4 linked regions of the Homo sapiens genome follow. The protein of the gene in region 1 interacts with the protein of each later gene in a pairwise test. Each region holds a gene or a part of one and is shown in the gene's direction. Other genes may lie near its edges. The genes, in order: alpha-crystallin A2 chain, SPSB1, PTTG1IP and CRYGC.

Evidence for each region.
Region 2: the proteins of alpha-crystallin A2 chain (region 1) and SPSB1 interact in binary tests that used the Homo sapiens proteins (3 or more experiments, as listed by UniProt).
Region 3: the proteins of alpha-crystallin A2 chain (region 1) and PTTG1IP interact in binary tests that used the Homo sapiens proteins (3 or more experiments, as listed by UniProt).
Region 4: the proteins of alpha-crystallin A2 chain (region 1) and CRYGC interact in binary tests that used the Homo sapiens proteins (3 or more experiments, as listed by UniProt).

The regions. Positions count from the first base shown.
Region 1 is NC_000021.9:6,502,117-6,509,698, forward strand, and holds part of alpha-crystallin A2 chain, read left to right. Parts: intron 1-4,686; exon of another isoform or gene 4,687-5,273; intron 5,274-7,582. UniProt on the Homo sapiens protein: Contributes to the transparency and refractive index of the lens. In its oxidized form (absence of intramolecular disulfide bond), acts as a chaperone, preventing aggregation of various proteins under a wide range of stress conditions.
Region 2 is NC_000001.11:9,288,552-9,296,086, forward strand, and holds the start of SPSB1 (SPRY domain-containing SOCS box protein 1), read left to right. Parts: upstream 1-4,342; 5' UTR 4,343-4,520; intron 4,521-7,535. UniProt on the Homo sapiens protein: Substrate recognition component of a SCF-like ECS (Elongin BC-CUL2/5-SOCS-box protein) E3 ubiquitin-protein ligase complex which mediates the ubiquitination and subsequent proteasomal degradation of target proteins.
Region 3 is NC_000021.9:44,870,386-44,878,204, reverse strand, and holds the start of PTTG1IP (pituitary tumor-transforming gene 1 protein-interacting protein isoform 1 precursor), read left to right. Parts: upstream 1-4,514; 5' UTR 4,515-4,588; coding exon 4,589-4,703; intron 4,704-7,819. UniProt on the Homo sapiens protein: May facilitate PTTG1 nuclear translocation.
Region 4 is NC_000002.12:208,127,298-208,134,853, reverse strand, and holds CRYGC (gamma-crystallin C), read left to right. Parts: upstream 1-5,025; 5' UTR 5,026-5,061; coding exon 5,062-5,070; intron 5,071-5,170; coding exon 5,171-5,413; intron 5,414-6,378; coding exon 6,379-6,651; 3' UTR 6,652-6,717; downstream 6,718-7,556. UniProt on the Homo sapiens protein: Crystallins are the dominant structural components of the vertebrate eye lens.

The DNA.
Region 1 (7,582 bases):
AGAAAGTGTCATCTTTAAAACTGGCCATATTCTGAAACTTGGTTCAACTGACAAATCTAAACATTCTTCTTCTTCTTCTTTTTTTTTTTTTTTTTTTTTTTTTGAGACAGAGTCTCGCTCTGTCGCCCAGGCTGGAGTGCAGTGGCATGATCTCGGCTCACTGCAACCTCTGCCTCCTCAGTTCAGGCAGTTCTCTGCCTCAGCCTTCTAAGTAGCTGGGATTAGAGGCGCCTGCCACCATGCCCTGCTAATTTTTTGTATTTTTAGTAGAGTTGGGGTTTCACCATCTTGGCCAAGCTGATCTTGAACTCCTGACCTCGTGATCCCCCTGCCTCGGCCTTCCAAAGTGCTGGGATTACAGGCGTGAGTCACCGCGCTTGGCCATTTTCTTCTTTAGTGACCAAAATTCCTCCCCTTAGGCATTTTTGGTCATTCAGAAGGAAAATCTAAATTATGGACACTTGTGCTTCTAGAGCAGACATGCATCTGCAGAGACGGCAGCTGGATTCGTGGACAATGCTTATGGTGCCACCTTCTGTCAGTATCTAGAAACATGGTCTCACTTAACCCGTGAAGACCCCAGACTATAATAGCTAAAATGGGGCGCCTTTAAAGTAACTAGTTTATGCACTCAATAGGAAAAATCTGCATCTAAAATTTAAAAACTGAGAGAGCTATTTTTCAATGATACTTAGAAGCTTCTAAAAGAAGTTCTGATGAAGTCATTTCTTTGCAAGAAGAAAACAGAAGATTATCTGAAACTATTTCTTTTGTTTGTTTGTTTTGAGACAGAGTCTTGCTCTGTTACCCAGGCTGGAGTGCATTGGCGTGATCTTGGCTCACTGCAACCTCTGCCTCCCAGGTTCAAACGATTCTTCTGAGCTGGGATTACAGGCATCCCCCACCTTGCCTCGCAATTTTTTTTTTTTTTTTTTTGAGACAGAGTTTCATTCTTGTTGCCCAGGCTAGAGTGCAGTGGCACGATCTCAGCTTGTTGCAACCTCCCCCTCCCGGGTTCAAGCGATTCTTCTGCCTCAGCCTCCCAGTAGCTGGGATTACAGACACCCACCACCATGCCTGGCTAATGTTTTGTGTTTTTAGTAGAGACAGGGTTTCACCATGTAGGCCAGGCTGGTCTCGAACTTCTGATCTCAGGTGATCCACCAGCCTTGGCCTCCCAAAGTGCTGGGATTACAGGTGTGAGCCACCACGCCCAGCCATCCACAGTTCTTTTTAAAATTTAGAAGTAGTTTCAGGCTGGGTGAGGTGGCTCACACCTGTAATCCCAGCACTTTGGGAGGCCAAGGTGGGTGGATCACGAGGTCAGGAGTTCAAGACCAGCCTGGCCAAGATGGTGAAACCTCATCTCTATTAAAAATACAAAAATTAGCCGGGCATGGTGGCGGGCGCCTGTAATCCCAGCTACTTGGGAGGCTGAGGCAGAGAATCACATGAAACCCAGGAAGCGGAGGTTGCAGTGAGCCAAGATGGCGCCACTGTACTCCAGCCTGGGTGACAGAGTGAGACTCTGTCTCAAAACAAAAACAAAAACAAACAAACAAAAAGACCATGGAGGCTTTCTCCTGTTTGTTTCCAGCTGCTGCTTCTCCTTCTGCCTCTGGGATGATCTAAACTCATCTCTTTCTGCCTGTTCCCTCAGCTCCCATACATCTCTTAAGCAGTGTTTTTGGAATTCCACAATGCACACATTTCCTTCTCTCAAAAAGGGGAAAGTATATTTAAATTTGGAACAGACTGGGTGCGGTGGCTCACACCTGTAATCCCAGCACTTTGGGAGGCCAAATTGGGCAGATCACCTGAGGTCAGGAGTTCGAGACCAGCCTGGCCAACAGGGTGAAAACCCGTCTCTACTAAAAATAAAAAAAGATTAGCGGGGAGTGGCTGCGGGCTCCTGTAATCCCAGCTACTTGGGAGACTGAGGCAGGAGAATCACTTGAATCCGGGAGGCAGAGGTCGCAGTGAGCCGAGACGGCGCTATCGCACTCCAGCCTGGGCGACAAGAAGGAAACTGCGTCTCAAAAAAACCCAAAACAACAACAACAACAAAAATAAAAAATAAAAAATAAAAGAAATAGGCCAGAAAAGAAATGTTAGCTCAAGCCTGTAATCCCAACACTTTGGGAGGCCAAGGCTGGTGGATCACATGAGGTCAGGAGTTCAAGACCAGTCTGGCCAACATGGTGAAACCCCATCTCTACTAAAAACACATGTGGTGGCATGTACCTGTATTCCCAGCTACTCGGGAGGCTGAGGCAGGAGAATCGCTTGAACCCAGTAGGTGGAGGTTGCAGTAAGCTGAGATGGTGCCACTGCACTCCAGCCTGGGCGACAGAGCGAGATGCTGCCAAAAAGAAAAAGAAAAAGAGAAAGGAAGGGAGGGAAGGAGGGAGGGAAATTAAAAAAATAAAATGCTAACATCCAGGGAATTAGTTCAGCTGAGATCAGATCTGAAACAAGTCAAAACCCTTTAAATGCTCAAACTGCCTGCTCTGGAGCCCCTGCAGGGTTTGTCAGTGCTCCAGCCTGTGGGCCAGAGGCTATGAGTCTCTACAAACATGAGGCTATGTTTGCAGCCTGGGTTCAATTTCCAGTCCTGTTTTTTTTTTTTTTTTTTGAGACGGAGTCTTGCTGTGTTGCCCATGCTGGAGTGCAGTGGCATGATCTCGGCTCAGTGCAGCCTCCGCCTTCCAGGTTCCAGCAGTTCTCCTGCCTCAGCCTCCCGAGTAGCTGGGATTATAGGTGCCCACCACCACGCCCAGCTAATTTTTTGTATTTTTAGTACAGACAGGGTTTCACCATGTTGGCCAGGCTGGTCTTGAACTCCTGACCTCAGGTGATCTGCCTGCCTCGGCCTCCCAAAGTGCTGGGATTACAGGTGTGAGCCACCGCGCCTGGCCTTCTTTTTTTTTTTTTTTTTTTTTTGAGATGGAGTTTCGCTCTCGTCACCCAGGCTGGAGTGCAATGGCATGGTCTAAGCTCACTGCAACCTCCACCTCTCAGGTTCAGTCAATTCTTCTGCCTCAGCCTCCCAAGTAGGTGGGATTACAGGTGCTCACCACCACGCCTGGCTAATTTTTGTGTTTTTAGTAGAGATGGGGTTTCACCATGTTGGCCAGGCTGGTCTCGAACTCCTGACGTCAAGTGATCCACCCACCTCAGCTTCCCAAAGTGCTGGGATTACAGGTGTGAGCAGCAAGATTTCTTTTTCTGAGCTGTCTTTAGAGTGGTTCTGACGCTTAGGAAGACTGCTTTGCATTTCTTTGGAGATGCTTGGTTCAGCCTTGGTTAAGTCATGACCTTCGTTATGCCATTACCTTGGTTAAATCTTTGTTTTTGAGATGGAGTCTCGCTGTGTCACCCAAGCTGGAGTGCAGTGGTGCGATCTTGGCTCACTGCAACCTCTGTCTCCTGGGTTGAAGCAATTCTCCTGCCTTAGCCTCCCGAGTAGCTGGGATGACAGGTGCATGCCACCACACCTGGCTAATTTACCTTGGTTAAGTCTCACTGGTTTTGTGAGTAACTTGAAAATGTCCATTTCGTTTTTTTTTTTGAGATGGAGTTTCGCTCTCATTGCCCAGGCTGGAGTGTAAGGGATGGCCTGATCTCGGCTCACTGCAACTTCGGCCTGCCAGGTTCAAGCGGTCCTCCTGCCTCAGCCTCCCAAGTAGCTGGGATTACATGCATGCACCACCACACCTGGCTAATTTTGTATTTTTAGTAGAGACAAAGTTTCACCATGTTGGCCAGGCTGGTCTTGAACTCCTGATCTCAGGTGATCCACCCACCTTGGCCTCCCAAAGTGCTGGGATTACAGACATGAGCCACCGCACCCGGCCAAGTTTTTTCTTTTTTTATATGTAATAAGTTGGATAAAGTGTTTATAAAAAGTTAAAAGTAGGCCCTCAAGCAGGTAAAGTAGGCTTGCTTCTTTTCAGAGCTATCCATGCTGATTCCAGGCATAGAGAATGCCTCCTTTGCCCTATTCATTAAAGGGCTTCACCCTGAAGTCAGTAATCTAATAGAGAAACAAGCTAAGTTGAAAAGACCCTGTGATGGTTAATATTAGCTGTCAACCTGATTGGATTGAAGGATGGTAAAGTATTGTTCTTGGGTGTGTTGTGAGGGTGTTGCCAGAGGAAATTGACATTGGAGTCAGTGGACTGAGAGAGGAAGACCCACCCTCAGTGTGGGTGGGCACCATCCGATTGGCTGACAGTGTGGCTGGAACAAAGCAGGTGGAGGAGGGTGGGAGAAGCTGGCTTGCTGAGTCTTCTGGCTTTTGTAGCCACCCAGTGAGTTCACCTAGCCGGCTGCCTAGATGGAGCGGATTTATCAGGACAGGGGAATTGCAATGCAGAACGAGTAATTTACACAGAGCTAGCTGTGCGGGCGACTGGAGTTTTATTATTACTCAAATTAGACATCCCAAGAATTTGCAGATCAGAGTTTTTAAAGATAATTTGGCGGCTCAGGAAGTAGGAGTGCTGATTGATCTGGCTGGAGATGGAATCACAGGGAGGTCAAAGTGAGGTTTCCTTGCTGTCTTCTGTTCCTGGGTACAATGGCAGAACTGGCTGAGCCAGATAGCCGGTCTGTGTGGTATCAGCTGATCCATAGAGTACAGGGTCTTGCAGAATAAATACCTCAAGCACTGATCTTCGGATTACAATGGTGATGTTATCCCCAGGAGCAATTTCGGGAGGTTTGGACAGCCAGAGGCTGGATGACCTTTAAATCAAAATTTCTTTTTTTTTTTTTCAAAGAAGCCCCATTTTATTACAGAGAGCATACAAAGCCGTTTCCTCATAAGGAAAAGTACAGCTTCCCTTCTCCAGGGTGACAGATGAGCCTTTTCTGAAGTTCTCAGCTTTCTCTTCTATCGATATTTCCCATGTCAGTTAAAGTGTTTGTAGAGACAGCTGATGCGTTTATTGAGGTTGTGCAGCTCATCAGCAAACATTCTGTTTCCAACCATTTTCTTCTTTAGCATACAGCGTTGCAATTCATTCCCCTTCCAATCTCGAAGCCATATGGGGTCCCTGATCAGCTTTTGGGGTGCTTTTCAAAGTTTCCCAGGATCCTGATGTTGTCATACACTCTGAACATGGCCATCCTTTCGTTCCAAGGATCAACTACTTTGGGGGGTAGGAGCCTTATACCAATCAATCTAGGAATACCAAGAAAGAAGCTTCTGCATGCCACACCTAGTCCCACAGGCGCCTACCTGCCCTACATAAGAGGCTCCCTGCCATTTCTCTAGTCTGCCCCTTCAACAGCACACCAAATAAGCCCAAGAATGAGGACCAGATGTGGCCTTCAAGAAGACAACAGGAACCGTCCCTGTCGACTTCACACGGGTACTAACGTGAAGGCAGCCACCTTGGGCCTTAAAATTTCTAATCTTGTAGCTAATTTGTTACTCCTACAAAGGCAGACTGGTTCCTAGGCAAGAAGGGGATCTTTCTGGGAAATGGCTATTATCAATTTTGTTTCAGAGTCAAACTATAAGCTAAATTCCTTCCCAAGGTTAGTTGGCCTGTGCCCAGGCATGAACAAAGACAGCCTAAAGGTTAGAAGCAAGATGGAGTCAGGTAGGTCTGATCTCTTTCACTGTCATCATTTCCTCAGTTGTAATTTTTGCAGAGGCAGTTTCACTTTCATCTTTCTCCTGTGCTGGATGCCTCCTCCGTTCCCCCTGCCCTTGGACATCAGACTCCAGGTTCTTTGGCCTTTGGACTCTTGGACTTAAGCCAGTGGTTTGCTTGGGACTCTCGGGCCTTCAGCCACAGATTGAAGCCTGCACTGTTGGCTTCCCTACTTTTGAGGCTTTTGGACTCCGACTGAGCCACTCCTGGCTTCCTTCTTCTGCAGCTTGCAGACGGTGTATCATGGGACTTCACCCTGTGATGGTGTGAACTAGTTCTCCCTAATATACTCCCTTTCATATATATGTCTATTCTGTTAGTTCTGCCCCTCTGGAGAACCCTAACTAATGCAGACCCTTGTGTAACTTTGATATCCAAAATATGGCTTTCTAGCATTTAGCTGGCTATTTTGAAACTCTTTGTAAAAAAAATTTATATATATGAAGGAAATCTCCATTTGTAAGGGTGTCTCCCTCCCTGCACCCAAACTGCTAGAAACTGAAGATGGGGAAGACATTGGCTGAAGACACTGTCTTACAGTTTACATCACAGACCTTGCCTTCGGTGGAAATACTTTTCCTGGCAACCTCGTCTTCACTAGGTGTAGGGACCAGCCCCACAGGATCGGTGGGTTTTTCTCCCCATGTGCAGAGACGAGAGATTGTAGAAATAAAGACACAAGACAAAGAGATAAAAGGAAAGACAGGTGGGCCTGGGGGACCACTAACACCAAGATGCGGAGACCGGTAATGGCCCCGAATGTCTGGCTGCGTTGTTATTTATTGGATACAAAGCAAAAGGGGCAGGGTAAAGAGTGTGAGTCATCTCCAATGATAGGTAGGGTCACGTGGGTCACGTGTCCACTGGACAGGGGGCCCTTCCCTGCCTGGCAGCCAAGGCAGAGAGGGGGAGAGAGAGAGACAGCTTGCGCCATTATTTCTGCATATCAGAGACTTTTAGTACTTTCACTAATTTGCTACTGCTATCTAGAAGGCAGAGCCAGGTGTACAGGATGGAACACGAAGGCGGACTAGGAGTGTGACCACTGAAGCACAGCGTCACAGGGAGATGGTATGCCTTCGGATAACTGAAGGTGGGCCTGAGGCCCTCCACAAGAGATGGAGGAGTAGAGTCTTCTCTGAACTCCCGTGGGGAAAGGGAGACTCCCTTTCCCGGTCTGCTAAGTAGCCGGTGTTTTTCCTTGACACTGACGCTACTGCTAGACCATGGTCCGCTTGACAACAGGCGTCTTCCCAGACGCTGGCGTTACCGCTAGACCAAGGAGCCCTCTGGTGGCCCTGTCCGGGCATAACAGAAGGCTCGCATGCTTGTCTTCTGGTCACTTCTCACTATGTCCCCTCAGCTCCTGTGTCTGTATGGCCTGGTTTTTCCTAGGTTATGATTGTAGAGCGAGGATTATTGTAATATTGGAATAAAGAGTAATTGCTACAAACTAATGATTAATGATTTTCATATATAATCATGTCTATGATCTAGATCTAGTATAACTCTTGTTGTTTTATATATTTTATTATACTGGAAAAGCTCGTGCCCTCGGTCTCTTGCCTCGGCACGTAGGTGGTTTGCCGCCCACAACTAGGCTTTTACCTACACCCTTCTTCCTTGGTTTGAATTCAGCTCTGTGCTTTTGAGATGTGAATTTTTTCTACTTTGTTTCACCTCAGTCATCCCTTTAGAAGTGCCAATTTAGTGTTGCCTAGCTAACAGTTGCTTAGGGATCATGTAAAAGGGGGAAATAAAAACTATTTGAGAGCATAATCAGGTTAAGTATTAATGCTAAAACTTACTTTACAAGTTAGTTGGTCTTGCTAAGATTTCTCTTTGGTAGAAATGGGGAATTGGAGAGAAGATTCTTTATAAAAACTATAAGATCTGCTTCTGTCTGTATGTCTATA
Region 2 (7,535 bases), on another chromosome or scaffold:
AAAGATCACAGAGCAAACTTATATAAAATGATTATTTGTTAACACTGTTACCATCTGGAATGATCTCATTTATTGTTTACTATTGGTCTCTCCCACTGAAATGGAAATTCTCTAAGGCCCAGAGCCTGGTCCATGTTGTTTATCACTCTCCAGCATGCAGAACAGCACTGTTCCATATTTATTCATTAGGTTCCTAAATTTTTAATAAAAATAAATACTGAAGGGCCAAATAATAAATACTTGGAGGGGGTTTCACTTTGATTGTTTAATGGAGTTTTACTACATTAATACTATTAAAATTAATTAATTATATTATAATGTATATTCAAGATGTCCCATGGATAGAAATAAACTGAAATACTGTTAAAAGCAACTGGTGAAGATTTAAGATAGGCACCAATATCACAGTCTGCTGTTACTTCACTGTGTTTTTGAAGAACTTTGCAATAGTTATTGTCCCAAACCCAATATCATCTCTTTATTATTTTTTTCTCAAAGTCATAGGAACTCTTTCCAAGCCTGTTTATCATCTAATGTCTCATTTAAATCTCCCCAAAACTTTGCTCTTAGTCTTTTCCTTTATTCGTGATTAACAAAGTCTGATAGAGCTATAGTGCAATATCATGCTTTGCCAGCAGGCGTCGCTGTCTGACAAGATGTGATCCAGTGTGAGCACTACAGTAATTTATGACCAAATGATCTACAAAATGAATCAATGTACTAAATTAGGGAATATTATGAGATCAAAATTCTGCGAGAAGTCAGCTGTGATGGCTCATGCCTATAATCCCAGTACTTCGGGAGGCCACGGCAAGAAGATCACTTGAGCCCAGAAGTTCAAGACCAGCCTGGGCAACATGGTAAGACCCTGCCTCTATTTTTTTTTTTTAATTAACATATAAACACTCTACTTCTGTTTTGCATCATGAGATAAGTACACATCTTATGCTAAGGATGCATAATAGATGTAGATTTTATTAATATGCTTCAGTGTTCTTCATGTTCTGGTGGATCTTGCTACAATTCTGTGTTGTGGATACCAAGCTTTTCTTTAAAAAAAAAACCTATTATCTTGAAAATTCTCAAAATCCTTGATTTCATTCTAGCACAATTAATTGTGTTCAGTTAATGTTGGTTGAATGATTGCACCACCTCCCCAGTTTCTGGGGAAATGTGTAGAGCAGTTCTACAGATGAGAACAGGAAATCTCAGAAAGGTTAAGTAACTTGCTCAAGGTCACACAGCTGATGAATAGCAGAGCTGGGGGTTGCATTGGGTTTGTCTATTACCAAATCCTTTGCACATTTGCTCCAATCAGCAAAAGGGATTCAGAGAAGATGGCAGCCTTTAACACTTGTGAGGGCAGCAGGATTCTGTGCTAAGAGCTCAAGGCTCAGAACCATCATCAGAAAAAGCAGCTGATGCTAATTCACCATCTATCAAGTTTCTCTTCACCATTTCCCGGAGACAGATTAAAGACATGAGCAAATTGTGCTGATGCAAGTGATAAAATGTGTGTGGGGGTGGGGTGGAGTTGGGGAGGGGGTTGGGGATGACACCACTGGGAGCCCAGAGCCACCTCCCTCCCGACTCACCCCTGCAGTACACAGATCTTTGTATAAGTCCTGAGTCACCCTTCAAATTTTTGGATAGTATCTATCAGCTTATGTCACAATGTTGCAAGATTATGTATCTTTTTTTAACAAACAATAGTATCAGCATGCTAGGGTGATTCTGAGCCCTTCTGACACATAAACTGGCTTCCAGGATTGCTCAACATTGCCCCATGCTGCAGCAGTCACTGCCGGCTGACCAGCCTTCCATCATCCGGCCAACCTGCCCAGCGTCCTGGAGGAGAGAAGGCCCACTCCCCAGGGGTTCTTCTGGGAAATTTAGGTCAGCAGGGTCTAATTATTCAACTGGATCAAGAGCTGAGATTTCCAGATTAACGCCGAAGGGGGGTGGGGTGGGGGTGCTGAAGACTTTTCATCAGGAACTGTCTTTCAGGGCCTTAAACATCAAAGCTGGGTCTCTAGCTCCAAAGTGCCCCAGTCTGCCCTGGAAGCTTCCCAGATGTTAAGAGGTGAGGCTTGGTGGAGTTCCTCTTAGCAAAGCTGACAACACCATGGCCCCAGGCCACGTGGCCGTAGCACCAGCCCCATGAGATGCCAGTGTCTGGTAGATGCCACACACACAGTGAATAATCCACCAAACAGGGCTACTCTCCCAAGGAGAAATGAACCCATCAGAGGCAGCTGTGATTTTCAGCAATGACTGACGTGGGCTGCACCCCATGGGCCTGTCCCAGAGGCTCTCACCAGTCTCCCAAGTAAACAACAGTTCTCAAACTGCAGAGTGGCTGGAGGGGGTCATATGCTCTTTTAAAATTATTATTACCTTTTTTTTCTTTTTTTTTGAGATGGAGTCTCGCTCTGTTGCCCAGGCTGGAGTGCAGTGGTGCGATGTCGGCTCACTGCAACCTCTGCCTCCTGGGTTCAAGAGATTCTCCTGCCTCAGCCTCCCGAGTAGCTGGGATCGCAGGCACGTACCACCACACCCAGCTAATTTTTGCATTTTCAGTAGAGATGGAGTGTTGCCATGTTGGCCAGGCTGGTCCTGAACTTCTTTTTTTTTTTTTTTTTTTTTTTTTGTGAGACGGAGTCTCGCTCTGTCACCTGGGCTGGAGTGCAGTGGCGCAATCTCGGCTCACTGCAATCTCTGCCTCCCGGGTTCACACCATTCTCCTGCCTCAGCCTCCCAAGTAGCTGGGACTTACAGATGCCCGCCACCACGCCTGGCTAATTTTTTATATTTGTAGTAGTGACGGGTTTCATCGTGTTAGCCAGGATGGTCTCCATCTCCTGACCTCGTGATCCGCCCGCCTCGACCTCCCAAAGTGCTGGGATTACAGGTGTGAGCCACCAAGCCCAGCCTGGTCCTGAACTTCTGACCTCAGGTGATCCACCTGCCTCAGCCTCCCAAAGCGCTGGGATTACAGGTGTGAGCCATCATGCCCGGCCAATTATTATTATTATTATTTAATTTTTGTGCAGAGTCTGTGTCTTGCTCTGTTGCCCGGGCTGCTCTTGAACTCCTGGGCTTAAGTGATCTGCCTGCCTCAGCCACCCAAAGTGTGGGGATTAAGGGCGTGAGAGCCACCACCTCCAGCCTCAAGTGATCTTTTAAATGGGAAGCACCCCTAAGCTGCTGGCCATGGCTGCCCACCTGACTAGTCTGGGTTCAACATTCCTAAACCGCTGGCACCTGGAAAGTCAGAATGCCCACTCAGGCCCGCCCAGCCCAGGGCAGTTGGTTGAGTCTCCGTAATCCTATTCTGAGTTCAAACAAAGCTAAACCAAACTGATTTTCAGCACCGTAAAATGAGAGACATCAAACTTTGTAATCTCACAGTTCAATTGGGTTCCAAGCTCTGGACAGCTGGCCTCGGGCCAGGCACTGTTTCCTCGCCTTTACAGTGAGTGTGTCATTAGTCCCACCCTCACTGTACTGGGTTATGGTAAAGACACAGTAACTACGGAAGCCCCGCTATTTGTTTCGGCTCCCCCAGAAAGGCTAACTCCTCACCGTTTTCAATGGACACTACACAGCGAGGGGTGGGGAATGCCAGGAGATTTTGCTCTCAAAACAGCAAAGTCTTTAAAATCTTCCCAGTCCCAAGTGACTGCTCTGTTCGGGGAAGGGGGAGGAAAATTCCTTGAACGAGCTAGAGCCACAGGACAAGTCCCCAGAGGCTGGGACCTGTTCAGGGAGCAGCCCTGCGGATGCCAGGTGCCCGCGCCCTCAGGGTCTCGAGGTCCGAGGCCCCCGTCCCCGTGGGCACCGAAACGCGAGCGGCCGAAACAGCGCTGCAGGAGGCTCCCTGGACCCCCGGCGGCTGCCCACTCGTCCCCGCTGGGCACTTCAGAGGAGGCCGGCGAGGCCTTGCTCGGGGTTCCTGGGACAACCCCACTCTCCGCGAAGATTTCTCCTTCTCGTAAGACCCCCGCCCCCACTCCAGCCTCCCACGGCTGCAACCCAGGCCCTGCGCCACGCGTTTCCCAAAGACGCCTCCGGAGGGACCCGAGCTTCGGGCCGGCAACACCAGGGCGGCGGCTCGGGAGAGGGCTGCGGACTAAGGGGGCGGAGGGGGCGGCCGAACCAGCGCCGGGCTGACGCGCCCCGCGCCCCGCGCCCCGCGCCCCCGGCCTTCCCTGCAGTGCTGAGTGGTCCGTGCGCCCGAGGTCGGGGGCGGGGCGGGGCGGGGCGGGGCAGGGACGGCCCCGCCCACCGGCGCTTTTCTCTTTTTTTTCACTTTAAAGCCGTCGGTTGCTTTTTCTCCTCCGCACAGAAGTCGCGCTCGGGCAGCCTGCGCGCTCGCAGCAGGAACCAGGCTCCAGGCGCCGGCGCCGGGGCCGGGGCCGCGGGGAGGAGGCGACTTCGCTCCCTGCGGCGGGCGCGGCCCGGGCGCCCGAGCCTCCTCGGCCTTGGAGAGCAGCGGCGGCGGCGGCACCCCGGGCGCGGTAGGCGGCGCGGGGCACCTGGGACCCCGATGGGTGGGCGACCGGCCCGGGAGGGGGAGGCGCGGGGGGCCGGGCGAGGGCGGACGCGGGGATCGCGCCGCTGGGGGACCGAGTGGGTGGCGCGGGGCCGGGCGCGGGGGAGCGGGTGGAGTACGGGATGGGGACTCGGGGCGCGGCCCCTCCCGCGGTGGCTCCGGGGGCGCCTCCCTCGCCGCGGCTCCTGGGAGAGGGGCCCAGGCCCGCCCCGCGCTGCCGCCGCTGCAGGGCAGGGGGTCCCGGGGCGAGGCGCGGCGGGGGTCTCGGGGCGCGGGGACCGTCGCAACGAGTTGCGGTCCCGAGGAGGGGCTGGGGCGCTCCGGGGCCGCCGACCCGTCCCCCCTTTAGCCCGGGGAAAGCGGGACCCCGCTCGGCTGAGTTAGTTTCGCTTTTCCCGCCAGTCCGAGTCGGGATTGGCGGCGCGGCCCGGTCCCCCGTCGGGGCGCCCCCACCCTCCCGCAGCGCCTCCCCCAGGGAGCCTGCCGGGGACACCCGAGCGCCGCCCTCCCCGCCGCCCCGGAGCCGCCGCGGCTTCTCCCAGCAGCGGAGGGAGAGCCGGAGGGTTGTCAGGAAATCGATTAAATCAGAAAAACAAGGGCGGCCTGGGCCCGCGGGAGGAACCGCGGATGGGTCACCGTCCCCGGGCGTGTACTGGGCTCGGTGGCGTCCAGGTTCCGGTGAGGACGGGACGGCCCCGAGAGGAGGGTGCGGGTCTGCAGGAAGAGCGGGTGTCTCTGAGAGTGCATCTGCGTGTGTGTTTGTGCATGTCCTTGTGAATATGTGCCTGCGTATGAGTGTGTCTGTGTGTTCATGTGGGTGTGTGTGTGAGTGTGTCTCTAAGTGCATCTGTGTATTTATGTGCCTCTGAGTGTGTGTGTGAGTCTGTGTGTCTGTCAATGTGTGCCTGAGACTCTAAGTGACTGTGTGTGTGTGTGTGTGTCTGAGTGCGTCTTTGTGTATTTGTGTGTGCCTCTCTGTGTATGTCTGTGTGTCTTTGTGTGTGTCTGTGTGTGAGTGTGTATGTGTCTTTGGGTGTGTGTCTCTGCAAGTTTGTGTCTCTGAGTGTCTGTCTCTGCAAATGTGTGTCTCTGTGTCTTTGTGTCTGTGTGTGTCTTTGCGTGTGTGTGTCTTTGTGTCTCTTTGTGTGTCCACACGTGTCTCTGTGTCTGTCTCTGTGTCTGTGTCTCTGAGTGCGTCTGTGTATGTGTGAGTGTCTGTGTGTCTCCAAGTGTGTGTCTGTGTGTCTTTGTGTGTGTTTCTCTGTGAGTGTGTGTGGGGACCATCCAGGGGGCCCTCTGGTTCCTAGGTACTGCTCCTCATGGTGATTTCTTTACTTGGTTCTGGATAGCCGGGCATGCTGGGCCACAGACACCCCACTAGGCAAGCCCTGCTGGTGCCCCCGAGGAGAGCGCAGGCTCTTCCTCTCTCCATTTCTCTGAAAATGAACTACACAGTTTGGGGGTGAGTTGGCAGGGGCTGCTTCCTGAGTGAGTAATATTTAATTAAACACTCCAGTCTGTAGCATCAGAAACTGGTCATGAGTTGAGTTTTAACAGGTGTTCATGGTAAAAGCGCCATCCCTGGTGACTAAGGTTTGATGTCCTTGGAAGAATTTTCTCGTTGGGGGGGCTGGGCCCACAACTTCATTTCTCATCGTGGGGTGTGAGGAGAACAGCAAGCAAGGAAGGGGATGGGGGCCTCTCCCTTCTGCCCTGTCCCCCTCCTCAGACCCCCCTCCCAGTGGTGGAAAGCCCTGGGCTAAGCATGGGCAGCACAGGTGGTCTCTCCACACTGAGGAATTTTGGAGTCAGGGAAGTCCTGTCTTACTGTCTAGGCCAGCCTGTCCTAGAGAGGCCCAGAGAGGGCGGTTCACTTACCCAGACTGCACAGCCAGGGCTGTGGACCAAGACTCCCCAGTCCTGAAACTGTTGCTCTTGGTTACTGTCCCCAGCACTGAGGTCATGGGCCAGGCACTTCGTGTCTCCCCAGCTGTGAAGTGATGGGCTGGATTAGATCATTTAAAGCACTCCTGCTCTCTTACAGCTGCTTTTCTTCTGCAGGGAGCACTTTACCCAGTAGATGGAGTGTGTGTGTGTGTGTGAGAGTGTGAGTGTGTGTGTGTGTGTGTGTGTGTGCGCGCGTGCGGTTGGGGAGGTGTGGAGTGGACTAAGGCAATCACTTTACAAGTCTTCCTTTTCCAGTCTGGCTACCACCCTAGCAGCAGAGAAAACAAAAGCAGTAGCATGTTGGCCCCAGTGGCTCAGACAGCCCCGAGCAGGGAGCAAGGCGGGTGCCATGCCGGCTTAAGAGAGACCTGGCCCTGGGAAGAATCAGTGGGTTTCAGGGCTCTTAGGAAGGGGTGGGCCTGCCTGGGGCCCTGGTGATGTCACTTTGGAGCTGGGTGAGGCCGTTTCTTGGGCTGCTGTAGTAAGGCTGGATCCACCCTTCAGTGGGTCCCTCTGGGCTGCTGCAGAATCTCACCCCCTTGGAATCATCACAGATGTTGAATTTCTTCACCAGAGCTGGGGAATGGGGTGGGGGCCTAGCCCGTGGAAGCCAGCGCTGCCCTCCCACCCCCATGGTGTGTGCCGTGCTCCCTTCCTGCACCTGCCCCTCCTCCTGGGTGGATGGAAACTTGCCTGCAGACGCATTTTCAAATTCAGCGAAACCTCTGATTCTTACGGTGTTCATGAGTTCGTCTGGGCATTTTGTATCAATTTTTCTCGAGAAATAGGTTGTAGCTGGTGTGCATGACTCAGTGTATCTTTTGGTTCTGAAAAATTTTATCAGACGACAGCACAAGGTCAGGTACAGGTGTGCCTCAGTCTGCCCAGGGGTGTGTTATCCTCTCCCCAGCCCTCAACACTAGATCAGTGAAATCCAGACTCTAAGGGACTTCGATTTTGGACTTTCAGTGAGTGCTCTCCCCTCCCCCAGTTATCTGATAACATCTCCCCCAGTCTAAAGTTCCACTGGCAG
Region 3 (7,819 bases), about 38 Mb from region 1:
TCGGGTTTTAGTTTAGATTGTGAGGTCTGGCTCCAGCCAATGGAGACAGGACACAGTAGCAGGGCCAAACAGCGGCAGGGATGAAAATGGCTTCCCTCCTTTGTTCAGGTGTGCTCTCGCCATTGTTCCATCTGTGATGAGCACCCCTTCTGCAGAAAGTAAAAATGGCCTTGCTGAGAGAATTAAATTTATGTTCGAGTGCTGTGTCTTTGCAGCACTTGGGAACAAGCATTCTGTTTCTAAATAACAATTTTTACATATAACAGTGTTTTAGGAACCCCTAAAGCATCTCCACCACTTTCATGTATTATACAAATAATAGAATGGAAGGTTATAATTTGTATGCCCCAAAGGCGGAGCATTAGCAAGGTCACGTTTGATCATTTCAAATGTTGGTGTATTTTCTTCTGACCACTCTAAAGTCCTGGCATGTCCTGTTTTTAGAGAGCGTATAAGGACTGAGCTTTAAAGAAAAGTTTGGGATCCAATTTCTATAATATCCTGCCAGTCCTCCACATCCTTTTGTTTCTTGGTTGTTGGTGGTGGAAAGCTAAAATTCCTTTCAGTCTATCTAGATTAGTAGAAAGTCTTTCTTTAGATATTAAGTGGCCCAAGTACTTTGTTTTTTATAAAATTGAGGTTTTTCTTTAGGAATTTTATGTCCCTTTAGGGCTGTTGTAATGAATGTATCCCATCTTCTATAAAAGCTTTGCTTATCTTCTGAGCAAAGGAGTAAACTGCCCATGTATTGTAATAAAAAATTTTTTTTAAGAACAAGTCAAAAGACTGGGCCCAGTGCCTCGCGCCTGTAATTCCAACACTCTGGGAGGTTGCAGTGGGCGGATCACCTGGGGTTCAGAGTTTGAGACCAGCCTGACCAACATGGAGAAACTCCATCTCTACTAAAAATACGAAATTAGCCAGGCATGGTGGCGCATGCCTGTAATCTCAGCTACTCGGGAGACTGAGGTGGGAGAATTGCTTGAACCCGGGAGGCAGAGGTTGCAGTGAGCCGAGGTAGCGCCATTGCACTCCAGCCTGGACAACAAGAGCGAAACTCCGTCAAAAAAAAAAAAAAAAGAACAAGTCAGTATGTAAGACAACTGTCTTTGCATCAGTTGGACTCTCAGTGTAGCCCTGAGCATGGCTGTCTGTGTGTATTGTCTGCCTTCCCAAGTAAAGGTAAAGAGAAATCAACACTTTCACACACAGAACTACTGAAGGATGTGCTAATAAGTCCACTACACTAAAGGACTTTGATCGGGGTAGCCAAGAGGATTCTTCCAGTATCAGTGGAAGACTCTGACCATATTTGATCAAGTACTGCCTTTAGTAGGTTTTGTAATTCTTCATTATTCAATAATTCAGTGTCTTCTAGGGCAATTAGGGATCGCAATTGGGTTAGATTTTGAAACTTTTTTTATGTCTAGTAACTCAGCTTTCTCATCTAATTCTAAATACGTCTTCCCCCTTTGGGAGAAAGAAACGTGGATATTGTAATTCTAAGAAGTCTCCTTTTATAAGATGGCTGGCAGCTGATAGAACCAGAAGGAAAATGTGAGTCCCTTGTAAAGGACCTAGTTGAAAAGCTATAGGCTGAGATTTACGTGCCGTTACAGGCGTATTAGTGACACCTACCCTTTGAACTTTTTTTTGACTCCAAGGAATGGAACCTTGTAACAAGATGGGATTTATTACAGAAAACACGGCTGCTCTATCAGCAAAAGCTTATGTCAGCAATGGGAACTCGTGTTAACTATTTTAAATAATTTTTATGGCCAGGCGTGGTGGCTCACGCCTGTAATCCCAGCACTTTGGGAGGCTGAGGCAGGTGGATCACAAGGTCAGGAGTTCAAGACCAACCTGGCCAATATGGTGAAACCCCATTTCTACTAAAAATACAAAAATTAGCCGGGCGTGGTGGTGCGTGCCTGTGGTCTCAGCTGCTCGGGAGGCTGAGGCAGAGGAGTCGCTTGAACCTGGGAGGCGGAGGTTGCAGTGAGCCAAGATTGAGCCATTGCACTCCAGCCTGCGCAACAGAGCGAGACTCCGTCTCAAAAAAAAAAAAATTATTTTTCCCAAAGTAGAGGCAGGGTCACACACTCGGGTATTTAAATTCTCTGGGAAAACCAGTGGGGTCCTGGTGAGCATCAGGAAATTCCTTGATTATACTTTTAAGTTCTACCTTTGACCATAACTCATGAACTAGGGCACATAGTTGTCCCCTATGAGAGACACTGGCTGTTTGAGCAATGGCCCCAAAACAGGAGGAGGAGGAGGAAGAAAGGTGGGTCTGGGCGAGGTAATTCAGACAACAAAGGATAAAGAGAAGGAGCTGAGGGAGGAGGGGGAGAAATTTCAGTAGTCTTTTTTAAATTCAGAAATTATTTTAGATAATTTTTGTTTTTCTCTCATAAATACCTTTATTAGAACTTCTTTTGGATGCTTCCAACTACCATAAAAAATAACTCTCCCAAAGATTCCGTTTTATCCTAGAGCCAGCGTTTTCCAATTGAGCAAACAAGTAAATTACCTTGGTGTTCCAATGGTACCCGGCTTTGGTCACTGAAATGTTTTTTCTCAAGTTACGTGAGACCATTTTTCTAAATATAACGAGAGGTGGCACCATAAGCACTGCACAGGAAACCAGCTGGAGTTTCCAAAGATGGGTCCTCCCTGAAGGAGAAAGACTTGTTTTGGATGGACGATTGCCTATGAGTTCTCTTAAGTGACAAAAGACTGTAAGGGAAAATCTGGTTACTCAAGAAGAAAGTTTAGACATGTCAAATTGAACTCAGCTCCAGAGCCTGGCCAGTTTTAAGGATTACAAATTTTGCTTAAGCCACGATTCGCTGCTTCTTTTCAAAGAGAAACTGCTTTCCCCTTCTCCAAATCTGAAGGACAAAAAAGGTTGCAAACTTTAGCAAGACGAACAAAACCTTAACCTCGAAGGATAGTGTTAACCACACACCTGCAAACAGCTGACTCTTTGGAGAAATAACAAACGAAACTCTTGCCTTAAAACCAAGCCTCAACTCCAGCCCTATCAGGTGTGGACCTGGGTAGGCGGAACAGAGTCTGAACCTCAGCCCTGGGAGGCTGCCAGAGACCCCGGCCAGGTTCCCAGGCGGTCCGGTGAACCAAGGCCGCTCCGCGGGTGCCAGCGCTCCGAGTGCCAGAGAAGTGGCTCGGATCACAAGAGGCTGGCTTCGGAGCCATCTGCAGGCGCCCAAATCCCAACCTAAAATCACCACAGGGTCAGAATCTAATGTAAGGGGGGGTTATTCAAAGGCAGTTGGAGGCTGGCCCACCCGGAAACACCGGCTCCAGAGGAATGGAGTCCGCCCTCGGAAGCGGGGAGGGGAAGGGTGCCCTCGGGCAGGCAGAGGCGGAGGCTTTTAGCAGGACCGCGGCGTCCTTCCTACGAGGTGGGCGCAGTCCTCGCGTTTGATGGACGACGGGCAGTGCCTGCTTCAGGGAAGGGTGCGGCAGTCACGGTTTCCCGTCTTCTGGTCTAAGCAGTGCAGAAAACAGGGAAGTTCATCTACAAGGGTCATGAACTAAGAAGGCAGGAGGTTTCTGTCCCCGGCACCGGCGAATCCCGGACCCGAGAAAGGAGCTACGGGCGCACAGAAGCGGGCGGCCCCGGCTCTCGCGGGGCTTAAAGCGCGCAGTGTGTTCGGGTTCACACCTCTAAATGTATTTTTGCCATTTCTTAAGTAGCCTTAAAAATGTCCGTCACTATTTAGTCCTTTTATCAACCGAGGGGCCCGGAAGGCCGCAGCGAGGGCGTCGGCGAGAAGCCATGGAGGAGAAACGGCGCTTCTCTCGGGAGTTTAGGTGGCAGCTTCAGCAGCACACGTTTCAGCCCATTCTGGGGCCGTTTCTAGTGTGGTTAACGTACAAAAATAAACAAATCCCCTAAAAGTCCCACGCGGACATCGGCGGGAGCCCAGGGCCGGACGCCGCGGTGTGGAGCGAGGGCGCCGGCGCGGACTATGAGGGCCCACCGCGCCTCGTCCAGGGCTCACTTAAGAGCAGCGTGAGCAGCGCTTGGGACCGCCGTCCGGGACGCCCGCAGCCCTTTAGGATGGAGGCCACCGTGACCTCCGCCACCGAAGCACCGCGCTCCCCTAGTCCCCTCAGCCGGTCGCCGTTCCCCGCCGCGCAGGCGCAGGAGCCGCGGCGAGCCCCTCGGTCACGCCTCGCCCCTCGGTCACGCCTCGCCCCTCGGTCACGCCTCGCCCCTCGGTCACGCCTCGCCCCTCGGTCACGCCTCGCCCCTCGGTCACGCCTCGCCCATCCGCGCCGCGCAGGCGCACTGAGCCTCAGCCGCTCTCCTCGCTACCAGGCTCCTTTCCTCTATCGCGCAGGCGCACTGAACCTCAGCCGCGCCGGGAGGCGAGCCCGTTGGCGAGGGGCGGGGCAGATGGCGAGGGAGCGGGGCGAGCTGCTTTTTGAGGCTGCGCACTCGCATGGCCCCACCTCGCAGGTCCACTTCCGGCGCCGCGGCTGTTCCGGGCGGAGACCGCTTGTGCTGGAGTCGGAGTTGTAACGCTCCACTGACTGATAGAGCGACCGGCCGACCATGGCGCCCGGAGTGGCCCGCGGGCCGACGCCGTACTGGAGGTTGCGCCTCGGTGGCGCCGCGCTGCTCCTGCTGCTCATCCCGGTGGCCGCCGCGCAGGAGCCTCCCGGAGCTGGTGAGGGCGCCGGGGCGGGCGGGGCCGCGAAGGGGGCGGGGCGGCTGGTGGGTCCAGGTCGGGGTCGGGGTCGGGGTTTCGGCCAGGGCGCTGGGCTCGGCGGGCGGCCTGGGCCCACGGTCGCAGGCAGCGCCCCGACGGAGGCTCCTCGAGGGTCACGCCCGTTTGGCGGCCGCGGGAGCTGCCGTCGCGGCTGGGGCGCGGGCAGGGGAAGAGCCGTCTTTGTCTTTGTCTTTGTTTTGTCCAGTCGCTGCGGCCGCTCCTCGCGCGTGGCCTCGGGTTGGCCCTCGCCCGGCAGGCGGGACGCTTGGCACCTGCGGCCTCCCTTAGCCTCACTGCGACCCCAAACAGCACTCCTCGGGTTCGATCCCGAGCCGGGAAGCCGGCTCACGACGTGTTCGAGGTCGCACAGCTGGTCGGGGGCAGGCCGGGATGGCGGCCGCAGGCCCCTGCAGGGTGATGGGGCCGCGGCCGGTGTGTCTCTACAGCCGCCGGCGTTCACGCCGCCACTCCCTCCCGGCCGCAGTTCCACGCACAGCAGCGAACGCTCGCACTTATGCCTTAGAAAGGAAGGCGTCCCCAAAGCCAGGCTGTAGCATCTGATTTTGAAGCAAGCTGATTGCGGTTCTACGCTGTCCAGACGCGCAGGTGGCATTCTTCATCGTTTATCCCGTCTGCACCAGGCCCTGCGGCCACAGTGGTGACCGACAGCCAGAGCTCCTATCCAAGAGGAGCTGAGTCCCCGGGAGGCTGACCAAGAAAGAAGCAGTGAGGGCGCGGGGGCTGGGGGAGGAAAGTGCATGACAGGAGACTCAGAGTTCCAGAAACCGGCAGTGTTTATAGAGGGTGGCTTCCTGTGGGGCTGGGCCTCCAGGGCCTGGTGGGCTGCGGGAAAATCCAGCAGGTTCTAAGCTGGAGAGTGTCATGGTTGGACCTGTTTCACAATGTCATGCTGGCTTCCGTGTGTGGAGTTTCCAGGTGACCACTAGTGGTGGGGAATAGTGCCACCTTAACTTCAGTTTCCTGACCCTTACAATTAGGGTTGACCTGGGCCCAGCTTGAGGGGCTAATACTTTTCTCAGCTCTTGTTAGCCCAGGCTCTGTCAGTGTCTGTTTAGCATAGTAGAGCACCTTTTCTTTTTGTGACCTTATGGAATGTTTATTCCGATGCAGGATTATTTGTGTTTCTTCTTACCTGCCTCCAAGTGTGCTTAGGGTTTGTGACGTTAGCAATGCAGCTGCCTTGAAGTTTGTTAGTCAAGGAGGCCAGTGGGACTGTACTGGGAACTTTTGGCCCAGATTGAGTTCTAAGCGCAAATGTGCAGTGAATACGTTTCCACAAACAGAATGGGCGTCTGCAGGCAGAGTGTGTGATTCACTGGCAACTGTATCAGTGGCTCGGGGGTGTGTTTGCTTGCATTGTGAAAGCGGGAGTGTCAGGAAAACAACCATGAGGTTTTGTTTGACTGTGATTCCTCCTGCTCTGCACTGCTGAAGGGTGCAGAGATGGGTGTGGACGAGTGGAGTGGACAGTGTGGGAATTAATCCGGAACTGCCATTCGGTGTGTCAGCTGAAAAGCCATTCGGTGTGTCTGCACTTGGAGGCTGCACTTGCTTGCTTCCACTTATGGTAATCACCAAGTCCTGGTGGGTGGACTGTTGTTTCTCTCACTGGGGACCCCTTGGAATAGGAAGAATGGTGCCGTGTCATGTTGGCATTCACTGCCCAGGCGCCTTTGGTGTCTGCGTGCCCCTTGTCCTTGGAGAGAGGGGCTATTTATAGCCTGGAGAACTCCCCTCTTCCCACAGAGTACTTGCTTGGTGTGAGATTTTTACTGCTTGTCATGGTTACAGGAATGTGACCGCAGTACTGATGTTTAAAACGTTTTGTCTCCTTTACAAGGACACTGTGTGAATTTAGAGAATACATTATACCAATCCAAATCCAACACTTTTAAGCATCTTTTTATGTGTTTTGATGGAGGAGAGACATTAAGAACCCATGGTGTATTGAAGATCTTTAGAGCAAGATTCTTGAAGTTAAACCTGGATAGGGCTTTTGGACCCCACTTTATTTGTGTATGGGGTCAGACTCAATCCAAGAGCTTCATCTGGAGGAAAGACGACCCCAAAAAGGAGCTCAGACTGCTGTGTGAGGGCTGGCGCAGTGGTGGCCAGTGCAGGTCCCCGAGGTGGTGGGTCCCACTCAGCTGCTCCTTACAGTGGGGACTCCTGATGTGGAGTTCTGCCCCTGTCACCCTGAGAAACGTGGCTTTCTAACTGTACAGAGTGCTACAGTGTACATAGGGTTCACAGTGTTGATACATACTCCTAGTCTTCAACTCTTTCTTTTGAAATAGTGGAGTTTCCAAGAACATTTTTTTGTCTCCATATCTGCCCTCTTTTCTCACCTGGAATTGACAATGTAGTTGTTCTCCATGCCTCTGTCACAGTGCAGAGTGGGCACCATGCCCGTTTGGCTGCTCGTTCTGCTGATGAGCATGGAGACTGCAGCCTGTGGCCTGCGGTGTGACAGGAGCATGACAAGGAAATACGTACACTTGCTGGTGTGTTCCTTTGTCCTTAGTGTGTTTATTGACTCACCTGAAACTTCAGGAAAGCACTCAAATGGGTCATGGAGGGTTGGTGTATCCTGACAGAAGAAAACGTTATTTGTTGTTGTTGTTTTTTCCTTTAATTTCGGAAACAAATGAGACTGAAAGGTCTTTAAAAATTGATAAATGGAGTCTAAGTTGAAGCCTTGCAGTCATAGGACCCAGAAGTCAGGGCAGTCACATTCAGTGTTAGACTTAAGCAACACAAGGGCAGTTTTTATCTCTGGTTTTCTAGCACATGTTTTTTCTGTATCTTGTGATGAGATAAGAGATAGTGATCACTTAGAGAAATAAACACTGCTTGTCTTTGAAGCAGTAACAAATGATTCATGCCTTTCTTTTTTTTTTTTTTTTTTTTTTTGAGATGGAGTCTTGCCCTGTTGCCCAGGCTGGAGTGCAGTGGCGTGATGTCAGGTCACTGCAACCTCCGCCTCCCAGGTTCAAGTGATTCTCCTGCCTCAGGGATTACAGGCGCATGCTATCACACCCGGCTAATTTTCG
Region 4 (7,556 bases), on another chromosome or scaffold:
GCAATAAGCCCTTCAGGAAGGGCTTGCTGAGGGGGTGCCGACTGGCAAAGCACCACACAAAAACCCCAGCATGATGCCTTTCCCATGTCCTCGAGGGAACTCTTGGCCTTCGCTTTAGAATTCCCCAGTGAATTTTATATTAATTTGTAGAATTGCCTTTTTATTTGCAAGGGTACTATTTTTTCCCATTTTTTAAAATTAAAATTGCAATCATATAAAAAAGAGATGCATGACTGCATAGGATACCACCGTATATTAATTGCTAAGAAGCAGGAAGGTGGGTGGTAAAATCAACTGCTGGCTGGACCTCAGACACCAGCAAAACTCTAGAATTGGCTACCGCTGTTGTAACATTAATTTCTCATCTCAGAAGAAATAAAAATTAGAATTACTAAGGAGTGGGAGGACTTAGGGCACAACACAGCATTCCTGGTTTTTCCCTTTTGCTTATTATCTCCACTGTTATAAAGGCCCATTATGGCTGGGTGTGGTGGCTAACACCTGTAATTCCAGCACTTTGGGAGGCCGAGGTGGGCAGATCCCCTGAGGTCAGGAGTTCAAGACCAGCCTGGCCAACATGGTGAAACCCTGACTCTACTAAAGGTACAAAAATTAGCTGGGCGTGGTGGCAGGCGCCTGTAATCCCAGCTACTCGGGAGGCTGAGGCAGGAGAATCTCTTGAACCCAGGAGGCAGAGGTTGCAGTGAGCCAAGATCGCACCACTGCACTCCAGCCTGGGTGACAAGAGCAAGATTTCATCTCAAAAAAAAAAAAAGAAGGCCTGGCACAGTGGCTCACTCTTGTAATCCCAGCACTTTGGGAGGCCGAGGCGGGCGGATCACAAGGTCAGGAGATCGAGACCATGGTGAAACCTCGTCTCTACTAAAAATACAAAAAATTAGCCGGGCGTGGTGGCGGGCGCCTGTAGTCCCAGCTACTCGGAGAGGCTGAGGCAGGAGAATGGCGTGAACCCTGGAGGCGGAGCTTGCAGTGAACTGAGATTGCGCCACTGCACTCCAGCCTGGGCGACACAGCGAGACTCCGCCTCAAAAAAAAAAAAAAAAGCCCCATTAAATCGATCAAGTGCAGGGTGCCTGTGTCATCCTACACACCGAAAGTTGCACATCCTGAACTTCAATGTGAGTGTGTTATGCCTGTGTATATTGAACATTTGAAACAGGCTCCATAGACCATTATAATAATAAATTTCAGACAAGGAATAACATTCACACATCCCCCCTCCCGGGCATTTATTGAGTAACCTTTATGTGCCAGTCCTCTAAGCCAATTAGTGAGAACACAAAAATAAAGATGGAATAGACTCTGCCTTTATGGGGCTCTCCCATCTATTTTGAGGGACTGATGTCTAAACAAAATAATTAGATAAGTGATAGTTACCCTTATAGTGGTATGAACATGAGGAGCCACGGAGGCAGTATTTAATTCAGCCCAGAAGATTAGGAAGGGTTCAGGAAAATCTTTTACAGACAAACTGACGCTTGAGCTGAGACTTGAAGAAAGGGTAAAATTTCTCTGGTTGAAAAATAAACTGGTGTCTCATTGAGAAGGATCAATATGTTGAAAAACAAGAACAACATGAAATAACATTGTGCATTTGGGAAATGACAAGCGGTTCGGCGTGATCAATCAGAAAGCGTGGGGACAGACAGCGGAGGCCAGGTCTAGGATGCCGCGCTAAGGGATCAATATTGGATCCTGGAGACAATGGGAGTCCATGAAATTTTTCAAGCAAATGAACAGCATGATTTGATGTGTTTTGATTCTCATCACTCCAGCATCTGTCTGAGTGCAGCTTGGAGGAAGACAACACTGGGCAGAGTCAGGAGGCTGTTGAAAGTCCAGCTGAGATATGATAAGACCCTATGTAAGGCAGCTACAATGGCAGGGGTTTGGGGGTGGGAGGTGGTTGGGGCAGAGGAGAGAAGGAGAAAGATTTGAAAAAAGGTTAGAGAAATACAAGACTACGCCATTATGGAACAAGAGCGATGTTCTGTAATATGCACTTTCTGGCCCCTTTATTGCTTTTCCTGTCTTCTTACCAGTGCTCTAATTTAAGTGCTGGTATCTCTGCTCCGATTCTCTCACTGTGTACATATGAAACTTTATAGAACAAGAAAGAGTGCTGGCCAGGCGCGGTGACTCATGCCTGTAATCCTAGCACTTTGGGAGGCCGAGGTGGGCAGATCACGAGGTCAGGAGATCGAGACCATCCTGGCTAACACGGTGAAACCCTGTCCCTACTAAAAATACAAAAAAAAAAAAAAAATTAACCAGGCGTGGTGGTGGGCGCCTGCAGTCCCAGCTACTCAGGAGGCTGAGGCAGGAGAACTGCTTGAACCCAGGAGGCGGAGGTTGCAGTGAGCTGAGATCACGCCATGGCACTCCAGCCTGGGCGACAGAGCGAGACTCCGTCTCAAAAAAAAAAAAAAAGAGTGCTACAAAACAGAGAGCACATCTGCCTTTAAGTCTAACGAGAATGTTAGGCAGGGCACAGTGACTCACGCCTGTCATCCCAGCACTTTGGGAGGCAGAGGAAAATGGATTGCTTGAGGAGATCAAGACCAGACTGGGCGACATAGTGAGACCCTGTCTCTACATAAAGAAAATACAAAACATTAGCTGGGCATGGTGGCATGCACCTGCAGTCCCAGCTACTCAAGAGACTGAGGTGGGAGCTTGAGCTTGAGCGTGGGAGGCAGAAACTGCAGTGAGCTGAGATTGTGTCCCTGCACTCTAGCCTGGACAACAGAGCAGAACTCTATCTCAAAAAATAAATAAATAGAATTAAGAGAATGCTAGTACAATTCCTAATAAGGCATTGCCTAGGGATGGCTAAAATACATGATTTCCTTGTCAAAACATGAAGGGATAAACCACAGCAGTGTTTTGGCCCAAGAACTATTTGGTGCTTATTAAAAATGTAGGTTCTGGGCTGGGCGTGGTGGCTCATGCCTGTAATCCCAGCACTTTGGGAGACCGAGGTGAGTGGATCACCTGAGGTCAGAAATTCGAGACCATCATGGCCAACATAGCAAAACCCTGTCTCCAATAAAAATACAAAAATTAGCCGGGCATGGTGACCCGCGCCTATAATCTCAGCTACTCAGGAAGCTGAGACAGAAGAATCACTTGAACCCGGGAGGCAGAGGTTGCAGTGAGCTGAGATCGCACCACTGCACTCCAGCCTGGGTAACAGAGCAAGGCTCCATCTCAAAAAATAAAATAAAATAAATAAAATAAAAAATAAAAATGTAGGTTCTGAGGTCTTCTCCTGATCTAATGATGCAGGATTTAGCCAAAAGATCAAGATGGTAATTTGCATTTTTAATAAGCAAGGTGATTCTTAGGCACACTGGAGTTTGAAAACCACCCGATGGTTTCGAAAGTCCCTTCCAAGCCTAATTTTTCTTTAATCACAAAATGGCTTCATAGAGGATAAATTTTTTCAGGAATCTTTGAGAGGATTAAATATCTTTGAGAGGGATAAACAGGATGAAGTCAGCCTTAACAATGTCACTCTATTACTAATAACAACATTTATTCAGTGTTCATTTGTGCCAAGTATGTGCCAAATGCCTTATACACATAATCCCACTTATTCATGTCAATGTCCTTTAGCTAAAGACCACCAGGGACACACCTGTCTTTAAACAAGTTGAGCTTATTACTTGTTGCAGCAAGGGAGGACATGCTCCTTGGGGAAGCATGGAGTGTCTCAGTAAGAGAGCTTAGAAAGAAATTGTTATAGGATTTGCACTTCAGTTGTGCGATTTGGGGAAGGAGCTAAAAAAGTTGGAGTTCACTCCAGATTAGATGTTAGCAGAAAGCAGGGTTAATTTTGTGATTAGTTATCTCAAGAAATCTTACCCGTAGGGAGGGGAGACTAGAACACGGATAAACCTGTAATCCATAAAGAAGTGGCAGTTAATCATTTTGGCTGAGAGAGTGAGGGCTTGGGATTTTGAGAGTGGAGCATTGACTTTGTTTTTGTCTGCGCTTAGGCAAAGTTAAGAAGTGGATTTATTTTATCTCATTTCATCCTGGTCTCGGAGTAGCCTTGTCTGAAGTTGTTATTCTGTGAGACTGTTTATGTCTAATAGCGGAGTAACATGTCCTCACTGCGAGTGCCACGCCAGCATCTGAATGTCAGAGGCTACTCTTTTTTCTCACTTTTTTTCTCATTAATCAGACTATAGTCCATGAGATAACTCCTGCTCTGAGTGGTTATATAATTTGCCATGGAGCTAATCAGTGGGCCTTCTGAGTACAGGCGGCCTGAGTCCAAAGCTCACACTCTTGCCCGTGAAGCTTTATGGCCTCCCTCACGCTTGAAAAAGGGAAAGCAATCTATAAAGTAGTATACGGTACTTCTCAGTCTTGGGCCCAGTGACCATAGAAACCTTTCCCTTGCTTGTTATCGTAAGTTCACTACCAGGGACTGATCTCTAGTTAGACGACGTGCCCACGAAAGGCATAGTTAAAAGCTGTCTTAAAGCATTGGGTTAACGAAGTCAAAACTAGCCAAGATAAGAATCTAGATTTGTGTCCGGCCCTGGACTGGAAAATTGTGTAAAGACAAAAATGTAAGGTAGAGCAGTCTCTGCCATCCAGGGAAATGAGTCAGTGCTTGTGGCATTCTACCTCAGCAACCTCTCTGGAATCCTGGAGCAATTCTATAATGGCATAGATCTTTCCCAGAAAATTCACAGGGAATAATTCAATCATATAGACAGAGCCACGAATTTCAGGTCAAAAGTTCAGACTGATGCACAGATAAATTTAGAAAACACTAACAATCCAAATAAAAGCAACACAGAGCAGTATGTACAGGACAGCGTTAGAATATACCAGAGAACAAGGACACAATCTACAATCATTTCCAGTGAATGCAGGATGTTAAAGAGATGCATAAAATCCCCTTACCGCTGAGGGCCCCTTTTGTGTTGTTCTTGCCAACGCAGCAGCCATCCTGCTATATAGACTGGCTGTGCAGCCGCAGGCCCCATCACACTGAACTCGCATCATCCGTGTCAACCAGCCATGGGGAAGGTGAGCAGAACACAAATTAAATAAAATGAAAAAAAAGTTGCCTTTATATAATGCCTGTTAGGAGCAAATAATGTAATTCGGAACGATTCTTCCTTTGCAGATCACCTTCTATGAGGACAGGGCCTTCCAGGGCCGCAGCTACGAAACCACCACTGACTGCCCCAACCTGCAGCCGTATTTCAGCCGCTGCAACTCCATCCGGGTGGAGAGCGGCTGCTGGATGCTCTATGAGCGTCCCAACTACCAAGGTCAACAATACTTGCTGCGGCGAGGGGAGTACCCCGACTACCAGCAATGGATGGGCCTCAGCGACTCCATCCGCTCCTGTTGTCTCATCCCCCAAGTGAGTTTTCTAGATTTCCATCATGCCGCCAGAGTCCCCACTGTATTGTCAATGTGGGTTACAGGGAGGGAGGTTTGCATTTAAAAACACCTAAGGGTTAGATGGACATCAGAGACCTGAATAAGCCAGATAGATAACATGCACAAAAACAGCAGAGAATGTAAGGAAGAACCCACTTAGAGGAAGAATCCGTTTTACTTGAAATTTTTGCTACCAATAAGTCAATTAAAAGAGGTCTGTAACAAATGTAATATCATAATGGGATATAAAACAAAACTTGCAAATGGGAAGCTGGTTGGGCATAAAAAGACGGTATTTTTAACAAATTATTTTGTCTATAGTAAAAGAATTTCTAATGAATGAATTAGATAGATTCCACCATGGACTAGTAAACCTTCAAAGCTGTATTGTTAATATAGGCTATTCAAAGGTTGTGTCCAACTTTGGAAAAGGTAATTTTTCTTAATTTGGAAAATCAGTTAAATTCTCATTCCAAATGACTATTTAACTTTACACTGAAGTACAAGATTTTTTAAATCTTACTTTAGTGGTAAATTTATATGTTTGTAAATTTGGGAGATAATACCCTTACTAAAAGAATACTAGTGAAAATAAATTATTTCTATTTTTCCCCCCAAATGTAGTTTGAATTAACACAGGTAATTAGGAATCAAGATATCTCAGTTCTTGATGGATTCTAACTCAGAGTTTGAACCTCTTAAAAATTCCATCTCCTAAATAAGAATGAATTTCAGGTCAAATAGAAAATGAGCGTGCCAGTATTTAGGTGCTAGTGGAAGACAGATCCATGCGCAGCAACCACAGTAATCTACATTTTACACTGTCTAAATTTTACAATGACAATTCCATGCCACAACCTACCAAGTTCATCTGTTCTTTGGTTGGACAAATTCTGGAAGAGACTCATTTGCTTTTTTCCATCCTTCTTTCTGTGGACCGAGTAGACAGTCTCCCACAGGCTGCGGCTGTACGAGAGGGAAGACCACAAAGGCCTCATGATGGAGCTGAGTGAAGACTGCCCCAGCATCCAGGACCGCTTCCACCTCAGCGAGATCCGTTCCCTCCACGTGCTGGAGGGCTGCTGGGTCCTCTACGAGCTGCCCAACTACCGGGGGCGGCAATACCTGCTGAGGCCCCAAGAGTACAGGCGGTGCCAGGACTGGGGGGCCATGGATGCTAAGGCAGGCTCTTTGCGGAGAGTGGTGGATTTGTATTAAAATAGCTTAACACTACCAATTTCCCATTTTGGAACCTAATAAATATTTAGTCTGCATTGCTGGCAATTGCTGACTTCTGTCATTCTTTCATTGTGCAAATCAGTTCACCTTTAAATGCTCCTTGTCAAAAGTTAAGAAGTGAATGGGGTGGGGGACGGGGTCTATTGGAGAAGAGCTTCAAGGTAGAGTGAGTTTGAACAAGCCTCAGACGTTGGGGTGGAGGCAGGGTGTAGCCTGCCCGAGAAAGAAAACGCAGGGCAATGCCAGAGACCTGGGAGAGGCTGACTGGTGAGAAGGGAGGCATTCAACTAAGCACCTTGAGGAACAATAGTTGGGAAGTTTCCTTCTAACCAAAAATGGGTTAGACAAAAGGCAAAGTCAGATGAGTGGAGAGGGCAAACTTAACTTGGCCAACAGCCTGATTAGACTATATAAAGGATTGTAGTTTTGTTTACTTTCAGACACAGTATTATATAACTAATGCCAGGGCCACCGCAGCCATTGCCGTACCTTTGAACAAAGTTAAAGACTATTCATCTTCTTTTGAAAATGACTCCTGTCCAGAAGTGTAGCTCTTGGTCGGTACTACCCCTGGCCCAAATGCTGTGTCAATTATAGAAACTGCACATCAGTTTCATGGTGACCAGCTATTGCAAATAAATTAATATTAAGAGATACACATCAATCTTTTAAATAGATTTTCATGGTATAGTGTACCCCAAACATAAAAAATAACTACAAAAAACATCGTTCTGGCATAAGGACGCATGTATGCATATGTTTATCACAGCACTATTCATGACAGCAAAGACATGGAATCAACCTAAATGCCCATCAATGGTAGGCTGGATTTTACAAAGTGGTACATATATACAATGGAATACTATGCAGCCATAAAAAAGAAT